Regions from separate parts of the Homo sapiens genome. Here regions 1, 2 and 4 are each linked to region 3. The links come from fine-mapping of genetic effects on gene expression. A gene starts in region 3. Each other region holds a variant in brackets. All regions are shown on one strand. Distances are between the middles of the regions.

Region 1 (5,034 bases), 51 kb before region 3:
TTGGGTCCTGGAGTGCCCATCTCTCCTTTTTGCCCAGGGGGTCCTTGAATGGCTCCATAAGCTGCAAAAGCAAGGAAACACTGGCCTTAGAGTCTTGATCACCTGGAAGCTTGGGACATCAAGTCATTTGTTCAGAGTAACACAGAGAGATAGTGATGGAGTTTGGACGTGTAAGAGGAAACAAAGTTCAGAATTTATAGAATTTGTCTAATTTTGAGCATCTCAAATGTTAATAACTGGAGATTTCTCATGAGACTGGTGTCTCTGGAGCAGACCCGTGGGAACCTATGCAGTGAGGCAGGTGCTGGGAAAGCAGTTGGATGCCCTTACTTTGGAAGAAGTCCATGAGGTCCGCAGTCACGTTGCTGTAGGCAGAGAAGACCTTGCTGATGCCGGGTGGCCCCTGTGGCCCAGGCTGGCCTGGTGGGCCCTGGACAGTGTAGGCCATCCCTTGCAGTAGGCCCTGACCTGTAAAACACCAGAGCTTGGGCACAGGAAGCAGGGATCTCCCAGTACCCTCTTCAGCAGGAGCACAGTGCCCTCCGAGTGTCAAACTCCCAAAGCAGTTGAACTAGATCAAGCCGCAGCAAGGGTGAAGCCCTCCAACTTCCTTTGTATTCCACTGTGTGACTGGCACAGGTCTCTTCCTGCTGTGGGCCGGCATCAAAAGCTTGTTGACTGCGTAACTGTGCCGTTAAGCTGCGCGGGGAAAGGACTCTTAGCCAACATCCTTCTCTCGGCCCCAGCAGAAAATCCAGCATGGTCATATGACTCATCTGGGACCCAGAACGAGCTAGGTGTTGGGAAAACAAAGTACAAAGCCCCCAGCGTGCTCTGTTCCCCACAGCTCGGGTCCCAGGACTGGGGCTCCTTAAGCTGAGTAGGCTGAGAGCTAGGCTGGGGCTGCCTGTCCCCTCCAGCCCCTGCCTGCTTGATTCTGTCTTCACAGCCTGGGGGTTCCACAAACAAGAAAGCCAGTCTGGAGATGCTCCCACGCTCCTTCCCCCCAGCACCAAGGCCTAAATGTCCCCACTTACGCTGCATGCTCTCTGACACCCTCACAGCCAGCTCATTGTAATCCAGATCTCCAGCAAAGTCAGCTCCCAATAGTCCGCCATTGCCAGCATACATGCCGCCTTCTGCTGCTGCCCCATAGCCTCCGCCTGGGCCGATGTCAGTGCCATAGGGACCCCTGTCTCCTGCAGCTTCACCAAAGGCACCGCCTGCACCCAGGGAGCCTGCACCACCTCCTCCTGTGCTCATGGAAGAGCTGTAGGAGCTGCCCCGCCTGACAGATGAGCTGTGTGAGGAGGAGCTGCTACCCCGACTGTGGGAGGCATCCGTGGACAGGAGGCGGCTGTCCCCAGGGGGTCCCTGCGGCCCAGGAGGGCCTGGGGGGCCAACAATGAAGCTGCGCACATCAGGACCTGCAGGGTGAGAAGCTGCATGAGTGGGAGCTCAGATCTCGGTGGAGAGAAAGACTTGGGAGTTAGGGAGTCTCTCCCAGGGTGTCAATGCCCCTGAGAGACCAGAAGTGAACTTCAGGGTTCTTGTACCCGAGTGGGAGAATTTTGGTGTGGAAGGAAACCGGGCTTACCCCACCAGTGGCTCTCGTGTGGCCTTCCTGTCCCTTTAAGTGCCTCCCTGCCCCACTTACAGGGAAAAGCAAGGCCTGCGGGGTGCCTGGTGGGGCATCACCGTCGGGGCACCTACTTGTGAGGTAGCTGATCAGCTCGCTCCGGAAGCTGTCGCTGTTTTCAGCTGCATAGGTTGCCAGGGCTCCTGAGACACCCGGGGGCCCTCGAGGCCCTGGGGGACCAGGAGGTCCTGGAGGGCCTGGGATGAATGACAAGCCGGCAGCTGGGCAGAAGGAAGAGAAAGAAAGGTCGGGGTAGTGCTGCGGAGGAAGCTGAATTCCCAGCCTGTGCTCGGGGCGCTGTGGGCCCCACCTGAAAGGAGGGGATGAGGCTGGGCCTCCCGGGTGATGGGAGGAGAGAAAAGCAGGAGGCCAGAGCCTGCTGTTTCCTGACATCATCCAGGAATGGCTGTTCCCGTCAGGCTCTCCCACTCCCAATTCTGAGCCTCATTCAACTCAGCCCTCCAGTCACTGAGAGGTGGAGCCCCAGGTCGGCCCTAATCACACACCGGGCTGCGCCTGGGAAAGCCATCTCTCCCCACCTCTGTCCCTGCCACGGCTGAAGGCCCCTTGCCAGCACATGTGGCGCTCTCCAGGGCCCTGCACCCAGCACTGTACAGGCTCCAGGAGCACTTAGACTGCCCTTGCTAAAGCCCATGGGAGCCCCCAAGGCCCGGCTGCATCCCCTGCCCTCCCCATCCCACTCCACAGTGCCCTACTATGTAAGTAAGACGAGAGGTCCTCCACGCTGATGCTGGACCACACATTGCCTGGGATCCCTGGTGGACCCGGGGGACCTGGGGGTCCAACGATGCCTCTGAATTCAGACCCTGAGACACCAAGGGAGGGCACGGAGTCAGTCCTGGCCTGGGCCAAGGGACTCTGCTTCCTCCCCAACCAGTTGGACAGATGTCCCCTGCTGGGCCTTACCTCGCAGCAAGGAGAGGAGCTCCTCATAGGAGGTTCCCGGCAAGCCAGGGGGCCCCGGGGGACCAGGAAGCCCAATGCTGATCCCAGAACCTAGGGAGGTGATGGATTCAGATCAGGCAGGGGGAGGCAGATGGAAACACCTGTCAGAGAGGAGGTCGGATACAGAAGAGGTTTGGACAGAAGTGGGGTCCAAGAAAGAAAAGAGATGGTGGCAGGAAGAGAGGCAGAGAGGAGGAGCCCAAAGGAGGAACGGAGGGGCCCACGGGGCCGGAGA[A/G]GCAGGTCCAGTGTGCCTGTGTGCTTCATTCTGTGTGTGTGTGTGTATGAGTATGTGTGTATGGGAGTGAGTGTGTGTGTGTATGGGAGTGTATCGGAGTGTGCGTATGGGAGTGTATGGGAGTGTGCGTGAGTACTGGAGTGTATGGGAGCGTGTGTATGGGAGTGTGTATGAGTGTGTGTGTATGGGAGTGTATGGGAGTGTGAGTACAGGAGTATGGGAGTGTGTTTATGGGAATGCGTGTGTGTATGCATATGTGAGTGTGTATGGGTGTGTCTGAGTATGGAAGTGTGTGTATAGGAGTGTGTGTATGGGAGTATGTGTATGGGAGTGTGTATGGGAGTGTGTGTGTATGGGAGTGTGTGTGTATGGGAGTGTGTGTATATGTGTGTGTATGGGTGTATGGGAGTGTGAGTATGGGTGTGTGTGTATGGAAGTGAGTGTGTGTGTGTATGGGAGTGTGAGTATGGGTGTGTGTGTATGGGAGTGTGTGTGAGAGAGAGAGAGTTGTATGTAGACTCCACACGAGACAGTGCCTGAGACCCCCGTTTTGGCTTTCCTTGCCATGCTTCTTGACCTGCTCCAGGCTCACAGGTTTGAACGGCTCTGAGCACTGCTCATTGCTGGGGTTGGTGCAGTCTGGCAGGTGGGGGTCAGTGGGGCAATCACAGGGAAGTTCACGCTGCGAGTCCTCATCCCAGTCATCCCAGGCCCTTCCCAACCACCCCTCCTGCAGACACTTACTCGACATGTAGCTGAGAATGCGACTACTCAGCTCTGCATAGTCCAAAGACAGGAGGGACCCATCTCCACTGGCTCCTGGTGGCCCTGGCGGACCCCGAGGGCCCATCAAGTACTGACGTAGGTACTGACGCACGTCATCCCCTGGAGAGGAGAGGATGCACTAGCAGGACCCACCCAGGCCATGGGGGTCGCAGCCATGATCCAGCCACAGCCTGGGCTCCCCTGCACAAACTGGCTCCTGCGTGACATTTGTGAGTTCTGGGTCCGCAGGACCACGGTGTTCAGGGGGGACACCAGCAAGCTGCCAGGTTCCCAAAGGGACACCTGCCAGCTTGTCTGGCATGGGGGCTTGGGAGGACATTTCCTGCCCCCTTTCCAGCCGGTTTGCTGACTCAGCAAGCAGATCAGAGCAGTAAGTGGCTCTTTGTCCAAAGGACTCTGCCTCCCTCTTGCAGCCCTTCCAAGGCTCAGACGAGGACAAGGTTTGCATGACGAGTGAGGCCAGGAGAAAGCAAAGATAGTCCCACCCTCGATCCCCCCACAGGTGACTCACGCTGCAGCACAGCCAGAATGTCTTCAGAAGAGATGGAGGACGAGAACAAGCTGACACCGTACCCCGAAGCTGTCGGGAAGAAAACCTCAGGTTACCTGCTTAGCAGGTACTGAAGCAACACCCTCACTATTCCAGAATCTGAAAGGCCCGGTCACCGAGCTGTTTGTCTTTGGGGGAAGTGGATGAATGGAGTATTACGAGGCTATTTTGAAAGCATAACAAAGTCAAATACTGTTGTTGGGATTTTTTTTTTTTTTGTAAGAAAGGAAGTTTATTTTTGAGAACATGCTTTAGCCTAATGCCTGCCAGATGCTGCCAACCTTCATGCACAGGTGGGAAGAACCTATAATTAGGAACACATTAGTCAATTGCCGGAAGGCTCACTCGGTGTCTCTCCAGCGTGGCCGCCCTGAATCTGGACAGACCCTTGTTGACACTGTATCCCAGTGGCCCGATTATTATGAATTCGGAATTAAAACTCATGTTCCAGAGAAGGGCAAAGCAAACAGCAAACGAGGAGATGAGGCTCTGGGAGCAAAAGCAGACCCACAGGAGGAAGGTGCCAGGTGCAGGGCGTGGGGAAGGGCTTACTCCGTAAGTAGCTCACAACGTGGCTTGCCAGCTCTGAGTAGTCGAAAGTCTCGCCTGTGATGGTGGTGACAGGTCCTGGGGGACCAGGTGGGCCTGGGGGACCCTGAACTCCGGATAGGTAAGATCTAATACTGTCACCTGCCGACCAAGGAACAAAGCAAAGTCAAGCCTGTCCCAAGAGGACATGTTCTCCCCACGGAGGTGACCTGAAGCACATGATAACATGCCTGCCCCGCCCCACACATGGGCCCAAGGCTGGGCCAGGAGGGAGCCTAGACTTCCCCTCACTGTCCTTCCCCTAAATTA
Region 2 (5,034 bases), 97 kb before region 3:
CAACCTCTATCTCCTGGGTTCAAGCAATTCTGCTGCCTCAGGCTCCCAAGTAGTTGGGATTACAGGCATCCGCCACCATGCCTGGTTAATTTTGTATTTTTAGTAGGAATGGGGTTTCACCATGTTGGCCAGGCTGGTCTTGAACTCCTGACCTTGTGATCCGCCCGCCTTGGCCTCCCAAAGTGCTGGGATTACAGGCATGAGCCACCACGCCTGGCCTATGTGAAGAGTTTTTATGCCTTTAGATATTAGGTAGATAAGCTCTTTTTTAAAAATACTTTATGTCCCAGTTATATTAGTGTAGAGAATAGTGTCACACACTTGTAAATATTTATTTCAGTTTTGTTTTTTTAAAGTTTTTTAGAACTAGATCCTGATGAGTAATCATGTTATTTTCAAGCAATAATTTGAGGCACTATTCTTTTAATGTAACTTTTATTATTTATATTAAACCAAATGATATCATTGTTGGTATAATCAATATATGACAGAATTTGTTACTGTGAGGAATTTTAGAGGTTATCTAGTGTGAGTTATTTTTCTTCCTTCATGCCAGCCCATTCACAAGTATAAAAGATACATCTTTAAAATCTCCAGGACATCAGTCAATTAATTTTAGTGGCTGCGTCATTTTTCATTGTAGAACTGTACTGCATGATTTAAGCAGGTTCCTGTTAAGTGACATTTAGGCTGATTCACTTTTTCACTATTGCAAATGGTGCTTTGATGAGTATTTTTGTATGTGCATGAATTTTATTTTATGAAATTATCTCCTTCTGATAAATTCTTAAAAGTGAGATTTAGACATTTATTTATTGAAACATTTATTAACTTTAAAAAATTTAGTATCTGTTTTTAATGTAATAAGTGGAGTTTTGCTGAAGTGATGTTAATATACATCATAGTGAAATGTCTTATAAAAACAACCTAGTTAGCATTTTAAGATCTGATTCCTAACGTTAAAAATGATCCTAGTATCTACTACATATTTGGAAACCTTTCATTTATAATAAATGATGGTGAGAAGTTAACCAAAGAAGGAAAACGAGAAAGTTAAAGTACTAAGAACAAGGAAAAATGACCAAATGATAGAAATATGGGGAGACTGGAAAGGGTATAGAGGAGGCAAAACTTTGCCTCCACCCTCTTAGCGTCCCTGCTGGGCCCGAGAATTAAACTGACACAAGATAGAGTAGAGGAGAAAAGCATAGACATTTAATATAAGTTTTATGTGACATGGGAGCCCTCAAAAGAAAATGAAGTCATAGAGAAATGGCAAAACCTACATGCTTTTGTGTTAGGTTGAAAGAAGAGAGGCGATTGTAGAAAAGTAGATATGTTATATGGGGAGGCTAAAGGAAGATGTTTAATTTAACAAGGTCTGTTTGTACACAATTCTCTTGACTGTGACTCCCTATCAAAGAATGTTTCTTTTCTCCTGGGATAGAGAAGACGTCTTTTACAGGAACATTTTCATCTCCTAGTTTCAGGAAGAAAAGGTGGAAGATTAGAATGCCCTTCTTGCATCTGCTATTTTTCAAGTGCCTTTCAAACTCAAAGTGATCCTTATGTCAGAGTGGCATGTTTGAAGTGGTGTATTCTGCCACCCTTCACGGGTAATGATTATGCCTAGTGTTCCATTAACGGAACGCTAAGCTTGTGGGGGTTATTTATATCCTACTGCCCAAGGTAATTGCCAAGGTCTGATTTTTCACAAAAAAAATTTGCAACCTCTAGCATAAATGGGTTAATTTCACACACAAAAATTTGCAACCTCCGGCATAAATGGGTTTCAACCTCCAGCAGAAAGGGCTTTGGAAACAGACCTGGATTTAAATTCTGTTTCTGCTTCTTACTAGCTACATGACCTGGGAAAGCCTTTTAACCCCTCAAAGCTCATTTATATCCTCCTTTAAAGTAGAGGTAATAATATATCATGGGGTTGTTGTGAAGATTAAATAGTAATAGTAATTACAGCTAACATTTTTGAATCCTTCTATATATGCCAGATAGTATATTAAATGTTTATATGTGGTTTTTTTTTTTACTTGGCAGATATATGTTATCTTAATTCTCATGAACTTGTGAGATGTAGATAATTTTTACTGATGAGGAGACTAAAAGAGGGATTTTGTAAATTGCCCCAAGCAACACAGCTAATAAGTGGCAAAACCAGAATTTAAATCCAGCAGTCTGACCCACCAGAGGCTGTGATTTGAAATGCTGTCCCCTATGTATATGAAGCCCTTAGCACAGTGCATAGCCATAGCATGCATTAATTCATATTTATGTTTAGGCTGTCTTTTATAAATAGTGTGTCAAGAGAATGAGAAGACAAGCCACAGACTGAGAAAATATTTGCAAGACACATATTTGATAAAGGAAAGTTATCCAGAATATGCAAATAACTCCTAAAACTTAACAATTAGAAAATGAACAGCCCAGTTAAAAAATGGTCAAAAGATTTGAACAGACATCTCACCAAAGATTTGACAAATAAGTATATGAAAAGATGCTCGACATCATATGTCATCAGGGAATTGTAAATTGAAAAGATACAAGTACTACTATGTAGCTGTTAGACTGGTGAAACCCATGCTTGCTGGCAACCCCAAATGCTGGTGAGGATGTGGAGCAACAGGAACTCATTCATTGCTGGTGTGTATGCAGACTCTTTCAGCCATTTTGGAAGACAGTGTGGCAGTTTCTTTTTTTTTTTTTTTTTTTTTGGAGACAGAGTCTTGCTCTGTCA[C/T]CCAGACTGGAGTGCAGTGGCGCAATTTCGGCTCACTGCAAGCTCCACCTCCCAGGTTCATGCCATTCTCCTGCCTCAGCCTCCCGAGTAGCTGGGACTACAGGTGCCCGACACCACGCCTGGCTAATTTTTTGTATTTTTAGTAGAGACGGGGTTTCACCATGTTAGCCAGGATGGTCTCGATCTCCTGACTTCGTGATCTGCCTGCCTCGGCCTCCCAAAGTGCTGGGATTACAGGCGTGAGCCACCGCGCCCGGCCAACAATTTGGCAGTTTCTTAAAAAACTAAACATACTCTTACGATATGATCCAGCAGTTGTACTCCTTGTTTATTACCCAAATGAGTTGAAAAACATGTCTACACAGAAACCCGCACATACATGTTTATAGAAGCTTTATCCATAATTGCCAAAACTTGGAAACAACCAACATATCCTTAAGTAAGTCAATGGATAAACTGTGGTATAACTAGACAATAGAATATTATTCAGTGCTAAAAAGAAATGAGTTATTAAGCCATGAAAACATTAAGGAACTGTAAATACATATTACTAAGTGAAAGAAGCTAAACAGAAAGGTCTATACATACTCTGATTCCAAGTATATGACATTCCAGAAAAAGCAAAAGCAAAACTATGGATGCAGTAAAAAGATCAGTGGTTGCCAGGGGTTGGAGGAAGGAGGGGATGAGTAGGCAGAGCACAGAGGATTTTTAGGGCAGTGAAACTATTCTGTATGATATTATAACGAGGGCTACATGTCATTATACATTTGTTGAAACCCATAGATGCAAGAGCAAACTGTAATGTAAACTTTGGACTTGGGTGATAATGATGTGTTAATGTAGGTTCATCATAGCAACAGATGTATCACTCTGGTGTGCAGTGTTGATGGGGGGGTGGTTATGCATGGAGCACGAGGGAACTTTCTGTACTTTCCACGCAATTTTGCTGTGAACCTAAAACTTTCCTTTATCAAATATGTGTCTTGCAAATATTTTCTCAGTCTGTGGCTTGTCTTCTCATTCTCTTGACACACTATTTTTAAAAGACAGCCTAAACGTAAATATGAATTAAATATGAATTAAAACTTAAAATCTATTAAAATAATAAAAAATTAGAAAATGATGCATTTGAAATGTGACACTTCTGATACTTTCATTTTCAGGCCCAGAATAAAGAGACCAGTGTTTTAGCTGCTGCAAAAGTGATTGACACTAAATCTGAAGAAGAACTTGAAGATTACATGGTAGAGATTGACATATTAGCATCTTGTGATCACCCAAATATAGTCAAGCTTCTAGATGCCTTCTATTATGAGAACAATCTTTGGGTAAGTATTTTCTGTTGATCTAAAGGAGTAGCCAAAATGAGTTAATTGTCCTAAAGAGATGTTTATGAATTATTAAAACCTATTTTATGTCTTATCTCTTCTATTTAGTTACTTGTGTCACTTGAATGAGAGTTGATCTGCTGATAAGAGAGTAATAACAAAGTTATTCTCAGCTTCAACAGATGTTCAGATTTATGTTTCAGATTGTACAGTTTCATCATGATTGTTTGACATTGGATCCAGGTGGAAAAATTTGGTTAAGAATAATAAATTTCCTAAAATATGAAATTAGATGTCCTTGTTTATAATTTAAATTTAATCATTTAAAAGTTTTAAAAGTTTCTCTTAGAAATTGTTTATAATTTTTTATCCTAAACTTTTTGTAAATCTTGTAATAAACTGTAAAATACTAGAAATGTTAAATATTTATCGTATTATCAGGTTCAACTTTAGTGCATGATGTGATGGCTAAAGCTGTATGTATAAATTTTATTCATTTTCAGAAAATATTAAGGTACAAGTAGATATAGAAATAAAACTTTCATATTCATTATAATAATCTGTCAATCACTTGTTCTGTACCAACATTAGTTTAATCAAGAGGACTTTTTAAAATGCAGCTTCAGTCTTTCTTCCTGAAGGAAGAAGCAAAGTTTTATGAGAGAGAAGAGTAAGTAGTATAAGGAATACCTGACTGGATGCCTAAAGGTCTATATTTTTTTATCCCAGTGCTGCCACTTACGGAACTTGGATAAGTCAGTTAACTTTTATGAGTCTGTTTACTCATCTGTAGGATGAGTAATGATCTACCTCCCAAATTATTTTCTGAATAATGTAATGAATTTGAAAACAATTTCTAATTGGCAAGCACTTGTAAAAAAAAATAAAGCATTATGCTGAGGGAAAAAAGGCAGGAAGCTACCTAATTAGTTAAAAATATGTTATTTTTTA
Region 3 (5,034 bases):
AAACAAAACAACAACAAAATTGCCAAAGTATTAGAAAACCATCCACTGGCTATTGACCTGATAACACAGAAGGGCCCAGCAGTTTGATGCCAGGAAAGCCAATGCCCTGGAATTGAATATCTTGGAGGCTTTGTCTCTGTAACACCCCAGAGATGGGTTTGCTGCTTGCTACATTTGGTATCCTGGATTTTCATGACTGGGAGCAGGTGGGATAGGGCACCAGCTTTGTGATTATGCTGGTTTGTTTACAGTTGTGTCCTGCCACTGTTAATAATGGCAAATGAAACAAACAATGTAAACACAGACTTCTTTTTGTTTTTCATAATCTGAGAAGGTGGTTAGTTCTTAGGTCAGGTCAGTTTCACCAATCTAAGGAGTTTTTTTCCTATTTTTTTTTTTTTTTGAGACGGAGTCTTGCTGTGTTGCCCAGGTGGGAGTGCAGTGGCACAACCTTGGCCCACTGCAACCTCTGCCTCCTGGGTTCAAGCAATTCTCCTGCCTCAGCCTCACAAGTAGCTGGGGTTACAGGCATGCACCGCCACACCCAGCTAATTTTTGTATTTTTGTATTTTTAGTAGAGATGGGGTTAGTATAATATGAGTGTGCACCACTACGCACACCACTATGCTTGGCTAATTTTGTATTTTTTGTAGAGTCAGGGTTTTGCCATGTTACCCAGGCTGGTAAGTTTCTATGCAAGCTTGAAGCAGAGCTGTTCACTTTAATTGTTCCTGTGTAAACTCTGATCAGACTCATGTGGGTGTTTTGCAGGGCCTAAGAGTAAAGCAGGACACCTCTGAATCTCTGGAGTGAGTCTGTGTGGGGATAGACATCTGTCTTAGGTTAGTTCTGACAGATCTGTGCCTTAGCTCTAAGAGAGAACATATGGAGGTAAGAAGAAACTATTCTGCTTTTCAAATAAATACCTTTTAAAAATCTTGCTACGTTTTACAAGTCCACTATTAGACTACTGATTAACTACTTCTCAAAAGAAGGAATGTGCCAGAGGTTTTGCCTCCACTTCAAAAAGTAAAGTGATAATTTGTCAGTTACCAGTTAACGTCATCCACTTAGGTATCTAAACTGGTAATTCTCATCTCAAAGTGAATTTTTTTGGCAGGAGGAAACCCAAGTTGACTCGTAAGAGTATATATACGGGAAACAATTTTCTTCCTTTTTTTATTCCTCTAAGTTTGATCCTGCAAAATTTCTGAATTAATCAGATCATTTCAAAGATCCTACTTTTCTTTAGATTAGAGGTAATTTTACAGCATGGTAAACAGCAATGTTTACCATGTATGGCTTAATCAGAGAGGCCCAGTCAGCACAGGGACTGTTTCTAGAAGGCCCCCTTACCTATACTTTAACTTCACCCCTGAGTTGTTCTCTTCGTCCAGTGGAGAGAGAGACAGAGGGAAGAGGAGAGCAAGATAGCGAGAGAGGAAACTGAGATTGGGAGAGAAGGAATTATAAGCCCGTATCATATTCTAAATAAAACAACACAAGTCATTTTACAATGCTGAAAACAATGCAGAAAGGTCTTGCCTCTAAAGCCCGCTATATTTTAACCAGCCTTCAGCCTTCTCCTTTTCCCCACTTATTTCCTTTGAAAGACCTACCCTAAGCAGAATGCATACACCAAAGTCATCTTTTATAACCAATTGATCACTTTAACCAGAATGCTAGAAACTACAGAACTTCATCTTCTTTTCTCCAATAAACATTTAATTTCTAAATGGCAAACCTTAAATCAAAGTCTCAGAGAAAAGGAGAAAGGTCAGTCTTCCTGTTTACTTACCTGGTTTGAGGTTTTGAAGGAATTGGAAACAACTTTGAATAAATCCCCCTCTCTCTTTCTTCTCCTGATGTTTTCTTCTAGAAATTTGCAGTGCTCACTTTTTTTTTATCCAGACCCAGCCAAGGTGTGTTAAAGCTGAGTGATCTTTCAAAAATGTTCACTTTTCTTTCTCTCCACCTTGTTTCTTTCAACTCTTTGCTTCCAAACATGTCCTGACAAAGGTGTGTCATGGTTTACAGCGTTACTCCACCCTTCCAATTATCTGACACTTGCTGGATTTAAAAAAAAAATCTGCCTCCAGGAATCAAACTTTACTGGAGGCAGAAAGCTTCTCCTTCCAGCTTAGGTAGATTAACTATTTATAAGGCCCATGGGGAAAAGGAAACAAAGGACCAGCATAAAGGAAATGCTTTTTTATTGCCTACCTTCTACAGCTGGAGAACTGCCACAACTTTGTGGCAGTACCCTTCCTCAGTGCCATGGGTACTGGAATCCCACTGCATGATTCATGAGTCTAGGCACGTGGATGGGCTCATGGATGAGCATGGTCTAGGCACATGGATGGCCTGTGGTCATACTGCCTGAGCCCTAGAAAAACTGAAGTTGGCAGGATTTATATTCAAGATCTGTTTCCCCTATAGATGTCTTCGTCCTCTGTTCCTGTGTCCTGTGTCCTTTGTCTTGTTTCCCCTATAGATGTCTTTGTCCTCTTTCCCCTCTTGTGACTCAAGCCAGGTCAAGCCCATCTGGAGAAAATAGTTGGTGAACTAATTCATAATATGCTAATGACTGAATGTACTGAGCAATTGGTGGGGTAGGGGTTCGTTTTACAAAAGAGGCAACCAGATATAGTGATGCTGACCTAAAAGAGTGACATGTTAGTGATGGAATTTTAGGCATTTAGCCACCTAATAATGGAGAGAGGTGCTGTTGGGAAGGGATAAGGACCTTCTTGTCCTTCAAATCAGGTGACCGCATAGTCTCCATACACCTAAAGACATGTGTGGGCTCCCAGATGTCCTGCAACTCCAAGTACATCCTGGGGACCTTTAGATTTCCCTAGAGGGTCAACTTGCATCAATCAGGATAATTCTTATGAATACCTGGATAGCATCTGGCTTCCCAGGGGGCCTAAAGACTAGCTTGAGACACTTGGTGTTGGTAAAATGGGAAGTCTGAACCTGGAACTCACTCAGGCAGTCCTTTGAGGCCATAGCACATTCCTGGGACCCAGCATCACACTGGGATTCCCAGTTCTGAGGCATTATCCTAAGATACTGGAGGGGAGCAGTGGGGCCCTTACAGCATAGCACCGATGTGCAACTGCACCTTGCTATTGTGGGCACTGCATCCCATGGAAGGGTAGCAGACCACAACAACAGCTGTGGGGCTCTTGCTCCTAAGCTGCCCATATTCCACACTGGAGTCGTGCATTTCAGAACCCTTTCAATTATGCAGAATTTGACACTTGCTTTGTAGGATGTTCTTGCCTTCCCCAAATAAATACTCAATATGTCTTCCGTCAGTTTCATAGTAGAAGAACACTGAAGAACCCAGAACACACAGAGCTTTCAGCATAAAATAGACATGCCCCTGCATCATTTATTTCTTTATTCATGAATTCAAGAATTAAACAAAAATATATTGGCTCCTGCTTGGAGCCAGACATTAAACTATGTGCTAAGAGTTTGGTGGTGAAATATGAACATAGTCCCTCTGCTTATGGAGTTCACAGTCTAATGGAGGAAGACAGGCCTTACATAATGTATTAGTCGGTGAGGGTTCCCATAACAAAATACGACGGACTGGGTGGCTTAAACAACACAAATTTATTTTTTCACAGTTCTGTGGGCCAGAAGTTCAAGATCAATGTGTCAGGAGGTTTGATTTCTCCTGAGACCCCCCTCTCCTTGGCTTGCAGATGGCCGCCTTCTTGCAGTATCCTCACATGGCCTTTCTCTGTGCATGCACATCCCTGATGTCTCTCTCTGTGTGTCCTCATCTCCTCTTCTTAAAGGACACAGTCAGATTGAATTAGAGTCCACCCTGATGGGCTCCTTTTTTACTTAAATTTAACTACTTCTTTAAAGACCCTATCTTCAAATAAATTCACTGAGGTACTAATGGCTAGGGCTTCACATATGAATTTTGGAGGGACATTATTCAGCCTATAACAGTTACGTACAATATATAATTGCAGATTATATATATATATATATTATAAGAGCAACTGCAAGAATATGATAACTATTATAAAGAAAGCATACTGACTTGAGGCCAGGAGTTCAAGACAAGCCTGGGCAGCATAGCAAGACCTTGTCTCTACTAAAAAAAAAAAAATAGCTGAGTATGATGGCATGTACCTGCAGTCCCAGTTACTCGGGTGGTTGAGAAAGGAGGATTGCATGAGCCTAGCAGTTCAAGGTTACAGTAAGCTATAATGGCGCCAGTGCACTCTAGCCTGGGTGACAGAGCAAGATCAGAAAGAAAGAGTACTGGCTACTGTGAGAGCGTAAGAAGAGACATAATCTTGGAGAGGGGTGTTAGGAAAAGTCCTGCTATATAAGTGATACATGAAGGTTGAAAAGAGATCACACAGGTGAAGGGCAGGGTGGAGAGTGTTCTACTATCTAGATGGGGCAAGAGTCTCTGAGAAGGCTCTCAGGTGGAAGCTGCACGGTGAGTTGGGGGAAGAGTGATGAGGCCAATTTGCTCAAAAGCATCAAGTGAAGGGAGGCAGGCAGCGGGCGAGAGGCTGGCAAGGGAGGCAGGACTAGATCACACAGGGCCTCACAGGCTGTGGAGGGTCATGTTTTGGGTTATGTGGCAAATGTTAAGTTGACATTAAGGAGCAACTCCCTACAGGCACTGTGTGGGTGTTCGGATTATTGATCCCAGGAAAGAAGAACGACTGCAACTAATGCTTTCTAGAACTACTGTAAGCCAGATTTTTTACATCCATTCTCTAACACAATCCCGACAACGACTCCGAGAGGTGTGTACCATTATTACCTTCATTTTATACCTGAGAAAAGTAAAGTTTGAGAGGCTGAGTAACAGGCCAAGGGTCTTCCATCTCATAAGTGGCAGAGTCTAATAGATTCCACTTGACTCTTGGACCTTCATTTCCCACTGCCTTGTGTATTATTAAAATTTAAGTCTGCCCATAGCTTTCAACTGAAAGAAAATAGGCAATATTAGAACAGATCAGGCTGAGGGCAAATTACAACTAAAAA
Region 4 (5,034 bases), 79 kb before region 3:
GTGTAGATAGGTGTATTTTTTGGAGTCTGCCAACTTTAGATTTTAGAGGAATCCTGGGTAGGGTACCATAGTCCTGGACTTTGGAAGAAGAGCATGAGGATCCTGGAAGCTTGGAGAAGAGAACAGTAAGAGGAGAGGATGCAGAAAGGTGATTGGAAGGTGCCAAAGAGAAACTGTTTAAAATTTGGATGCATTTTGAGTTTAGCATTTTCACATTCCATTTTTGCTTCCTCTGCCTTCTAACCCTTTCTTCCATATCAACACCCAGTAAGTATCTGCCCTGAACACTTAGTTTACCAAAATGTATTTGTAGGAGTCTTATATGTCTGTTATTTCTGTTTGCATTTAAATGTTTTTGGATACCAGTTGAGGAATGAAGAGTTTAGTCTTAATAAAGAATTTTAGGTCATAGCTAGCAGCCAAATCTGGTACTTTTGGGTGCAGCAGAGGCACTGTCTTTCTAGTAACCCTAAAATCATACATATATCTCTGGCCCTGAGATGGAGGGAGGGGCTGTCGATATTATTGTTACTGATTAAGTAGATTTTGATCCCCAGTGCTGGCAGTGTTTAAAAATTACCTGAGAGCTTTTTCAAAAAAAAGAGATTTCCAGCTACCCTCAGACCTGTCAATTTAGTTTTTTTTTAAGAGATGAGCCCCACAAATTCATTTTTAATTGTTTTGTCAGTGAAAAAGCAGAGGTATCTGAGAAACTACAAATTGAAAAGATGAAAAAAAAGGATAACATGTAAAGTTCTACTGATTAGCTATGTGAACTGCTCATCACTTATGCCTAATTATAATGTGTCATAAAAGCTATACATGAAGATGATCAAAATGCATACTTTGAAAAAATTTGATTTCATCTGTAAAGACGTGTAAGTCAGATGACGTTTAAGGTGTTATAACTGGTTCCACAGATGAGTCTATTGCTTTATATTTATACTTTCTATGTGTAGTCTGCATGGCTGTTCAGTTGTTTTGTTTTAAAAAAGAAAGAAATGTTTAAGGAAGAAGAAAATGTTTTCTACCTCCAGTATTCCTTGTACAAAGCCTAACTAAAATAAAATCTCACTCAGGAAACAAGAAGACAAAAGAAAACATTGAAGAAAACACGCAAATTTATTGTTGATGGTGTAGAAGTGAGTGTAACAACATCAAAGATAGTTACAGATAGTGATTCCAAAACTGAAGAATTGCGGTTTCTTAGGTGAGTAGAGAAACAACGTAATTAAAACTGGTTTGTGACTTCTTTTCAGTCTCTGAAAAGTCAGAAGAATAGAGAAACAAGGGTAAATTATTGGCTAATTTTTTTTTATTCTTTTACTACCGTTCCACTCGAAAGAAAATTTTTAAAGCTTTAAAAAAAAACGTATTTCAGAAGTGTAATTTTTGCTGTCTTCTCTATCATTACCATTAAATTTTATCAGACGTCAGGAACTTCGGGAATTAAGATTTCTTCAGAAAGAAGAGCAAAGAGCCCAACAACAGCTCAATAGCAAACTACAGCAACAACGAGAACAAATTTTCCGGCGCTTTGAGCAGGAAATGATGGTAAAGTCTGATTGTTATACCATTTTATATCATTTTGTGTTAATAATGACATTTACTGCATTAAAAACAGACAAACAAAAAAGGTTGTAGAACTTGTTCTCTGATTGCCAGATTTCTCTAGCTTTGTGATTTATTTCTGGCATTTTTACCCTTTTGGTGTTCTGGATGCCTTTTATTGATTTATTCTTTTTTCTTGAAAGGATTTTCTATCCCAGTCTACCTTAAGCTGGTTTATGGTGTGATGGGTTGTTTTTTCTCTCATGAAAACTTATGAAGCCAGTAAACAAAGTTCCTAGATTTGCCTATTGCTGGGTAATTTTTCAGTGCTCTAATTCGATCTTTCAGATTTGGAATCCAAGATTTTAAGCCAGTTTAGAGCAATTGCCTTCAAACCTAGCTGAGCAGTAGGACTCCTCAGGGGCTTTTTAAAAATGTGCTTTATTCTCTGGCTTCTACAGTTAAGCCTCCACATCTCTATTTCCTGCTGCTAGAGGAAATAGTGCTGACTAGTCCTGGGTAGCTGTCACTGAGTCCTTCAGTTTTTGCCTTGTGTCCAAAGTTGGAAAAGGAATTAGTAATGTAATATAAAATTTTTGTAATTTATGTTGACTATCTGCCTTAATGTAGGTTAGAAAAAGTATCATTTGAAATGTTACAGTACTCATGTTTTGAATATAGTCCTTGTGTTGACTTGTAATTTTAATTGATAAAGATTGTTTTGTGTGAACTGTGGATTGTTGATTACATGAGTTGGATCATAA[CTG/C]AGATTTCCTAAGAAAATAGTGAACTTTTGTTCTCATTGAGTATTTTTATAGTACTTATATTGTTTTCCAAAACCTTATAAAATCTGTATTTCTCCCCCATCATACTTTCTAAAATGTTTTACTTTTCAATTTTTTTAAAAAGAAAACATCCATTACAAATAAGTAACTATACCTGTATTCAAAAACAGTGTTACTGAGTGTTATATAAACAGGAGTCTTGTTGCAAGAGTAGATTTATAATTCCAAAAGATCTGTTCCAATAGAATAAGGTGTTTATTTTAAGAATCTTAATGTGGAAGATTGAATCTGAAAATGACAATCTTATTATTAAATAATGGCGATATTATTAATAATATTATTTTATTAAAGTAGACCTCAAATAAGCTCTTTGATTTATCAAAAATTTTATTGGATAAATATTGAAATTTTTCTGATTTGCCTTACTACTTCACAACAATTAGCTATTCTTCTGGATAATCTAAAAACTTTGAACATTCTACTAGTATAATAGAAAACAAATTTTGGGTCGGGCGCAGTGCCTTATTCCTGTAATCCTAGCACTTTGGGAGGCTGAAGTGGGCAGATCACTTGAGGGCAGGAGTTCGAGACCAACCTGGCAAACATGGTAAAACCCCGTCTCTACTAAAAATACAGAAAAATTAGCTAGGCAGGATGTCACATGCCTGTAATTCCAGCTACTCAGGCGGCTGAGGCATGAGAATCATTTGAATCTGGGAGGCGGAGGTTGTAGTGAGCAGAGATTGTGCCACTGCACTCCAGCCTGGGCGACAGAGGGAGATCCTGTCTCAAAAAGAAAAAACAAACAAAAACAGAAAAGAAAAAAAAAAAGACCAGGCCCAGTGGTTCATGCCTGTAATACCAGTATTTTGGGAGGCCGAAGCAGGAGGATTGCTTGAGCGCAGAAGTTTAAGACCAGCCTAGGCAACATAGTGATAGCCCTATCTCTCCAAATAAATAAATAAATAAATAAATAAATAAAAAGATAAGTTGGTCATGGTGGCATGCACTGTAGTCCCAGCTACTTGGGAGGCTGAAGCAGGAGGATAGTTTGAGCCCAGGAGGCCGAGGCTGCAGTGAACTGTGATTGTGCAACTGCACTCCAGCCTGGGTGACAGAGTGAGACCCTGTCTCTAATAAATAAAATAGAAAAAAAATTTCCATGTTAGAAAAAAAGAACTCATTTTTTTGAGAATTTTCATAACATATTTTAGTGCATTTGACTTTTTCAGTATTGTGAAGGTTATAGTACATTACTAAATTTAAATACTAGTTATGTTCTCTTAGGAAACATCTTTACTATAAGGTATTAATATGGGTGATGGAAAAGTTATCATCTTGAGCTATATTGTTTTACAGAGTAAAAAGCGACAATATGACCAGGAAATTGAGAATCTAGAAAAACAGCAGAAACAGACTATCGAACGCCTGGAACAAGAGCACACAAATCGCTTGCGAGATGAAGCCAAACGCATCAAAGGAGAACAAGAGAAAGAGTTGTCCAAATTTCAGAATATGCTGAAGAACCGAAAGAAGGAGGTAAGTGTAAACTACTGTTTTTAATTACTAAAGCTTTTTTTTTAAAAAAATTGTTTTAAGACTATCTAAGGATTTAGGAATACTAATAATACTTGAGAGTTAAATAGCACCTATTCATTCTTTCATTCGGTCTTCTCAACAGTCATATAGAGTTGTCATAAGGTCAATCATTATTCCCATTTTACTGCCAAGAAAACTGGAGTAAGAGAGGTTTTAGTGACCTGTTTAAGTTCACCTCAAGAGAGGTTTTAATGACCTGTTCACAGACTACCCCTAAATATCCAGCTAAACCTTGAATCAGGTCTTCAAATTGAGTTTAATCCATCTTAAGGTCTACCATTGTCCTTAATGCAACACATTTAAGTCCTTATATAAAAGTATTTTTTAGAAAACTTACTATGTTGTGTTTGCCAGTGGCAGCAGTGATTCATTTTATTATTTATAAGTTATTTTTCATCTTTAATTCATACTTTTAACGATTTTGTTTGTTGATTAGCTTTATTGCCTTTCATGGGTATTGTGCCAAACAAAAGCTGAATAACCTGAAATTTGACATGCTATCTATAACTCATCAAATTGTGAGGTACTTCGAAGAACTAGAAGTGGAACATATCTGTAAAGTCATTTGATGAGAATGAGTTTTTTCATTGTTTCCTGAAACTGTTTCATATTGTTATAGAATCTGTTTGCAGTATAAAAGATTGTCATTGCTTCAGAAGGAAGATTTACTTATTATATTAGCATCTTTTTTTGTCCCAAATTAAAACTAAAAGAGCTTTACATGTAGGTAATTTTCAGAGATAATTTTATAATTTATTAACATCTTCAGTATAGGAAGACGATTTGCCTTTTCATGATATAAAAGACACCAGAGACAATGATTGTGATCAATTTTATTAGGGTTGGAACAAACAGAAACCTCAGCCAAACTAATAAATGCATTTTCACTTTTGTTACACATCTCAAATACCCAGATTCATTGACTTTAACATTTAAATTGAGAAGAAAATTGAATGTCATACTGCTGAATCTTAAGGATTTGCTTTAAAAAGGGTAGAGTCAAACATTAATAAATACAGTGATTTTATGATTTCTTTAGATAAAGATGAATGAAATGGTATGTGATTTTATTTGATGTGGCTTCCATTTCTAAAAATCA

The links. PIP is the estimated chance that this variant, and not a neighbour inherited with it, causes the effect.
Region 1: its variant is the best candidate, but not a certain one, in a credible set for the expression of COL17A1 in whole blood (TOPMed, PIP 0.50).
Region 2: its variant is the best candidate, but not a certain one, in a credible set for the expression of COL17A1 in whole blood (INTERVAL, PIP 0.58).
Region 4: its variant is the best candidate, but not a certain one, in a credible set for the expression of COL17A1 in whole blood (INTERVAL, PIP 0.57).

The regions. Positions count from the first base shown.
Region 1 is chr10:104,032,908-104,037,941 of GRCh38, forward strand. COL17A1 (collagen type XVII alpha 1 chain) reads right to left here. Exons shown (of 56, transcript NM_000494.4): 46 at 4,729-4,866; 47 at 4,138-4,206; 48 at 3,585-3,725; 49 at 2,567-2,656; 50 at 2,356-2,466; 51 at 1,714-1,860; 52 at 1,038-1,427; 53 at 331-468; 54 at 1-61. Among named protein-coding and RNA genes, the nearest start is that of MIR936, 13 kb to the right of the region's middle. The variant A/G (reference allele first, on the strand shown) is at 2,841.
Region 2 is chr10:103,986,757-103,991,790 of GRCh38, forward strand. SLK (STE20 like kinase) reads left to right here. Exons shown (of 19, transcript NM_014720.4): 2 at 3,919-4,083. Among named protein-coding and RNA genes, the nearest start is that of SLK, 22 kb to the left of the region's middle. The variant C/T (reference allele first, on the strand shown) is at 2,753.
Region 3 is chr10:104,083,925-104,088,958 of GRCh38, forward strand. COL17A1 (collagen type XVII alpha 1 chain) reads right to left here and starts at 1,956. Exons shown (of 56, transcript NM_000494.4): 1 at 1,799-1,956.
Region 4 is chr10:104,004,482-104,009,515 of GRCh38, forward strand. It overlaps SLK (STE20 like kinase), which reads left to right. Exons shown (of 19, transcript NM_014720.4): 10 at 1,080-1,210; 11 at 1,431-1,554; 12 at 3,696-3,875. Among named protein-coding and RNA genes, the nearest start is that of SLK, 40 kb to the left of the region's middle. The variant CTG/C (reference allele first, on the strand shown) is at 2,316.